2 separate regions of the Homo sapiens genome follow, and region 1 is linked to region 2. Evidence: fine-mapped expression QTL. Tissue or cell type: whole blood. Region 2 holds a variant in brackets; the other region holds the start of a gene. All regions are shown on one strand. Distances are from middle to middle.

The links. PIP is the estimated chance that this variant, and not a neighbour inherited with it, causes the effect.
Region 1: it holds the start of ZCCHC24, and the variant in region 2 is fine-mapped to the expression of ZCCHC24 in whole blood (INTERVAL, PIP 0.95).

What each region holds. Positions count from the first base shown.
Region 1 is chr10:79,444,258-79,447,006 of GRCh38, reverse strand. ZCCHC24 (zinc finger CCHC-type containing 24) reads left to right here and starts at 1,383. Exons shown (of 4, transcript NM_153367.4): 1 at 1,383-1,812. The coding sequence starts at 1,567. It overlaps LOC105378383 (a long non-coding RNA gene), which reads right to left and starts at 766. Exons shown (of 4, transcript XR_946104.4): 1 at 1-766. RefSeq lists silencers at 951-1,460, 1,471-1,530.
Region 2 is chr10:79,416,471-79,419,219 of GRCh38, reverse strand. All of the region lies in intron 2 of ZCCHC24 (zinc finger CCHC-type containing 24), which reads left to right. Among named protein-coding and RNA genes, the nearest start is that of ZCCHC24, 28 kb to the left of the region's middle. The variant C/G (reference allele first, on the strand shown) is at 1,526.

The DNA.
Region 1 (2,749 bases), 28 kb before region 2:
CAAACCCAAGCTGGGAAGCACACAAATGTCCCCGGCGGCGGGAGGATGACTGCTCCCATTTTACAGAGGAGAAAACAGGCTTGCTCGCAGAGGTTAGGCGTCATGCAGAGGTCATTCCGCTGGACGGTGGCCAAGCTGGCACTCCAACGCTGGGCGGAATGGCTCCAGAGCCAGACTGAAAGTGGGAGAGGTGACTCGGTCCCAGCCAGGCGGTGAGTTCCTCTGGGCTAGGTCCCCGGTGCTGGCGCAGCAAAGACCACCCGGAGAAAGAGACGGTGAAGGCCCCGGGGCTTCCTGGGGCGTCAGGCGGAGGCGGAGGCGGGGGCGGGGCTCCCTCCAGGCAGTCTTGGACTAGCTGAGTTGTCCCAGCGAGATGGGTGACAGCCGCTTTCCCGAGCTCCCCCGGCCCAGGCTGGTGTCCTGGCGACTCGCCAAGGCACCGGGGCGGGCTAGGGCTGGAGCCGGGGTGGAGGAAGAGGGTCGAGAAGCGAGGCGGGCCCAGAGCAGAAATAGGAGAAGGGGGGGGGGAGGGGGCGGGGAGTCTTTCCTGGGGCAGGAACCCGGGCCCCCCTTGGCGCAGCCGGCCCGCAAAGTGATTCTGCAGATGGAAGGAATTAAGTAGGAGGGGGAGGGTCCGATGGTGATAGCGAGAGGAGGGAGTTAGAAGTGTGTGCGTCTGTGTACACGCGTCTGAGAGAGGAGCGGGAGAGACAGGGAGAAACATCAGACCAGACGGAAATAGAAGAAAGGAGACAAGAAGAGTGAGAGAAAGAGAAGGACATACACACACACACACACACACACACACACACGGAGGGCGCCACATACAAGGACGACGGACACAGGAGACTAGTACTAGTCTAAGAGAGAGAGAAAGAAGGAGTATGAGAAAGGAGGGAAAATAGGAAAGGAAAAGTGAGTGAAAAACAATTGCAGAGGATTTGGAAAGAACGAGACAAGAGCGCTGACGACAGAGGGAGACGAAATTGATTAGGCCGGGGCTGCACTGAGCTCCCGGCAGCTCGGGGAGCTGGGTTGGCCGGGCTGGGACGAGGTGGGGCTTGGGCGGGGCCTCGCATGGGCGGGCCCGCGCCGTGCTGCATATGCAGATGAGCCTCACTCCCCTCTCTCCCCACCCCTGACGGTTCATATTCAACGAGACAGCCAATGCAGGGCGAGGACAGTGCCAGGCGGGGCAGGGAGTGGGCGGCGGGGCATCGTGGACCCCACCCCCGGAGCCGCCGCTGGAGGGGTCAGCCGCGAGGCAGATAGCGGATCGCCGGGCGGGGCGGGACGCAGTGGGCGGGGCGGAGGGGCGGGGCCAAAAGTTTCCTGCCCAACTTTCGCTGCCTCCTTCCACCGCCTGCGCGCGCCGGGGCCGCAGTCGGGGGGAGGCGGCGGCAGCGGCAGCGGCTGCGGGCAGCGCGCGGGGCGCAGGGCGCGGGGCGATCACCGTCGGGGCTCGGGAGGCGGGCAGTGGGCACAGGCTCCCCGGTGCCCGCCCCTCCGCTGCGGAGGGGGGCCGCGAGCGGGCGGCCGGGGAGGGGCCGGCACCGCCGCCACAAAATGAGCCTGCTGTCGGCCATCGACACGAGCGCCGCCTCGGTGTACCAGCCCGCCCAGCTGCTCAACTGGGTCTACCTGTCGCTGCAGGACACGCACCAGGCTAGCGCCTTCGATGCCTTCCGGCCCGAGCCGACCGCCGGCGCCGCACCCCCGGAGCTGGCCTTCGGCAAGGGCCGCCCCGAGCAGCTGGGCTCGCCCCTGCACTCCAGCTATCTCAACAGCTTCTTCCAGCTGCAGCGCGGAGAGGTGGGTGCCCCCGCGCGCCCCCGCCCACCGCCCCACCGCCCCACCGCCCCACCGTGGCGGGCCGTTCCCTGTCTGACCCGCTCTTCCTGGCCTGGCGCGGCCCGGCTCCGCATTGCCGGGCCCGGCTTGGCTTGGCTTCGTTCAACTCTGCCAAACTCGCCGCCCGAAGTCCCCGGGGTGCCGGGTGCGCGTCACCTCCCGGCTGAGCCCGGGCTGGAGCAATGCAGGCCGGGGCGGAGCTCTCCCGCCCCCTCTCCCTGCCAGGGCAGCCCTGCTCCAAAGGGGTTGGGGGAGGGAGTTGAGGAGGGGTTGTCTCCGGATTTTCTTCAGACAGCTGGGGTGCGGCCTGGGCGGGGAGCCCCTTCGAAGTGTCCTTCTCACGCCCAACCTTATCCTCGTCCTGGCCACCGCGGGCTGGGACCGAGAGTGCAGATTCTGCTCGGAGCTCCTCTGGAAGGGCCTAAAATCTTTTCTCCGACCTCTGCGGTTCCCGACCCGAAAGGCACCCTGGAGAGCAGTGACTGCCCAGAGGGCTTCTCCTGCTGTTCTCACTCGGGGACCCCAGATACGTCCTCCAGCTGCTCGCCCTCCCCCAGCCACATAGGAAGTGGTTTCTGAGGGCTTGACCCCACAGACTGCGCTGTCCCCAGCCCTCCCAGCCTCGAAGGAAATGAAAGGGAAATCCTCTTGAGCTCTTGGGAGGGGGGCTAGAAAGGGGGGGGGAGAGGTTCCAGCTGCCCAGCGCCTTCTGCAGAAACCTGGGCCGGCTGTGTTGCAAAGTCTGCCTGTTTGGTGGATTCAGTTACAAAGTTGACTGGGCAGCGCCTCTTTGCCAGCAAGATAAATACACAGATCGCCACCACCTCCCAGCCCTTTTTGAAGAGTCTCCAGGGCCTGCCCAGATACCACTCCTTTCCGTGGGCTGGACTCCTCCCCT
Region 2 (2,749 bases):
CCAGATCTGCCCTCATTTGTAAAGTGAGGCTCATGTACCTGATGGGAGGGTTGGTGTGAGGGAGATGAGAAGCAGCCCGGATACCTGGGAAGCAACACCCACCGGAGCCCCTCTCCTTCTCCCTGACCCACCCCTGCAGCTGCTTAATTTCATGCATGCACGCAGACACATATGTGCACACATGCAAACGTGCGTGCATGCACACACCCCTTGGGCTTCTCAGCCTCAAGGCCTTGCTCACACTGTCCCCGAGTCTGCAATGCCTTTCCCGAATCTCTTCTCTCCTATCCCCCTTTCAGAGCCCAGCTTGAGCCCACCTCTCTCAGGGAGTCTTCCCCAACCATCCAGGGCCTCAGAGCTCTCCTCTCTGAACCCTAACTTGTCAGGACAGCACCCCTTCCCCAGAACCTGGTTTTAAGGCCCTCAAGAGGTAAGAAATCTCAACCAGGTTTCTCATCTTTCCCCCATCCCCATCTGGCCCCTAGGGGACAGAGAATGCCCCTCTTTGGGTGGGCTTCACTCTGCCCTGCCCCAGTCCTGGAAGGTAGCCCAGCCTGGGCCGTTTGACCTCTGCTCAGCCTTCTCATCCCCACTCCACCTGTGCTATGGCCTTAGCCAGTGACTCTCTCATCTCCCCCAGGTTCAGCCCAAACACGTCCTCTTGCATGGTGCAGCCCCTATGCCCTTCTATGCCCCATGTGCTCCTGCCTTGGTGAGTCGTGCCTAGCCCAGGGCCGGTCCTGGCACAAGTCTGTCTCCTACTTCCTGAGGTCACTTCCCAGGCGAGGTCTGTGTCTGCCTGGCAGGCAGAGGGAGCATGGCCTTGGGGTCAGAAGGCCCGAGCTCTCATCCCAGGGCTGTCTCTCTAGCTGTTCAACATTGGCCAAGTTGACCTTACCCTTGGGCCCCCACACCCCCATGCATGAAGTGGCATCAGCAATGAAGCCTGTCTCTCAGGGCTTCTGTGAGATCCAGAGGCGATCAGACAGGTGAACGCGCTTTGAGAACTGTGAAGTTATACCATTTGCTCCACTGCCCAGCGAGCAGCCACATTTGCTGAGATGATCAGAGGTGTGCGAGCGAGGGTGTTTAGGCCTTGGTGGCTGCTGTGAGCTGACCCCTGCCTCAACTGCCATGGGGTCTTGGAGGCATATTTGTGAGGGCAGCATTTTCCCTTTCCACCATGTCTGGGGTGGCTGCCCAGGGTGGAGCCTGTGTTGGGTGCCTCCTGCTCCCAGTGGCTTTGTGTGGAGTGGGAGGTGGCCCAGCTGGGGCAAGGTGGCCAGATCCCAGCCTGTGGGTTAGAGGACTTGGCACCACTGACCTGGCCTGACTTGGAGACATGGCTCCTCAACACACCGCCCCCACTCCCTCCCATTCCAAGGCTCAGGGCTCAGAGAAACGGGGCAGCAGGTGCAGGGAAGAAATGTGCATGGAATGGGGGTGAGGAGCCCGAGGACATCAGGCCTTCCTCATGCCTGGCTCACGGAGCACCTTCGTCTCATTTGCTGGCTGGGTTCTTACA[C/G]TCACCTGGATGTCATCTGTGGCCCATGTGCCCACTCTTCTTCTCTTTCTTCATCTCTGTCTCTCATCCTTTCTTCCTCTTTTCTTTTGTAACAGATTACATAACTTGCCCCTGGTCCCACAGCTGGTTAGGATCAGGCCAAGTCAGTCTGACCTTAGGCCGTGCCTTTCCCACTGCTCCCTCTGCCCACAACAACGGATGGGGGTCCATCCTCTAGGACATGCTGTAGACCTGCTGATCTCCAGCCCTGGCAGAAATCAGGCTGCAGGAGGCACTGTGAACCCAGGCCTTCCTCCCTGCCTGGCTTCCTCCAAGTTCCCTGGCTGTGTGGGAGCCACAGGTCTCTCCCTGACAGGTTGGGGTGATGGTGAGGTGGAGGGGTGCCCCCAAAGCAGTAGGCATGATGACAAGGGGTAAAACCCAACAGGGGCCCATGCTCCTCTGCTCCTTCCTGGGGACTGTGAAGCTCAAACAGAGCCTTGTGCCCCTCCCTCCCGCAGGCCCTCTGAGCCCTCCCCATGCATCAGTCCTCCCTCTGTGTTCCCAAAACACCCTGCACAAACGGCTTAGTATTTTGTATTCTCTTTTGATTGTGATCCCGGGGAGGGGGAAGGCTGGCAGAAAATCACTTAGCGCAGCACCTGGCACATAGTGAGTGCTCAGCAAGTGTGAGCCATTGCGTTGCTGTGGCTTCAGTGCGCCATCCACAGTGTCTGCCGTGGTGCCCACTCTGAGCAGGGCCCCGTCATAAGGGAAACATATTAACAGCACAGCAGCTACACGCACAGGGAGCGCTCACTGTGTTCCGGGCACTGCTCTGAGCACTTTTCACCCATTGACTCCTCTAATCTTCTCATGGCCCTTGTGCTGGACACTCTTCTTATCCCCATTGCACAGAGGAGGAAACTGAGGCACAGAGAGGCTAAGTGACTTGCCGAGGGTCACACAGCTTGGACATGTTCCCCAGCAGTCTTGCTTCAGAGGCTGTGCTGTCATAAATATGTGCAAAAAAAGGAAGAAATGAACAAGACTCAGGATGTGGAGGAGGAAAGAAAGGCAGGGAGCTAATGTTGACTGAGCATCCTCCATGTACCAGCACATCACTGATGTCTTCAGAGACGTCAAGGGATTCGCCCAGAGTCACACAGGAGCCAAGGGCATGGCTGGGATTTGAGCCCTGGGTGATTTCTAATCCCCTCCTCCCCACCTTATCCCACCAGCTCA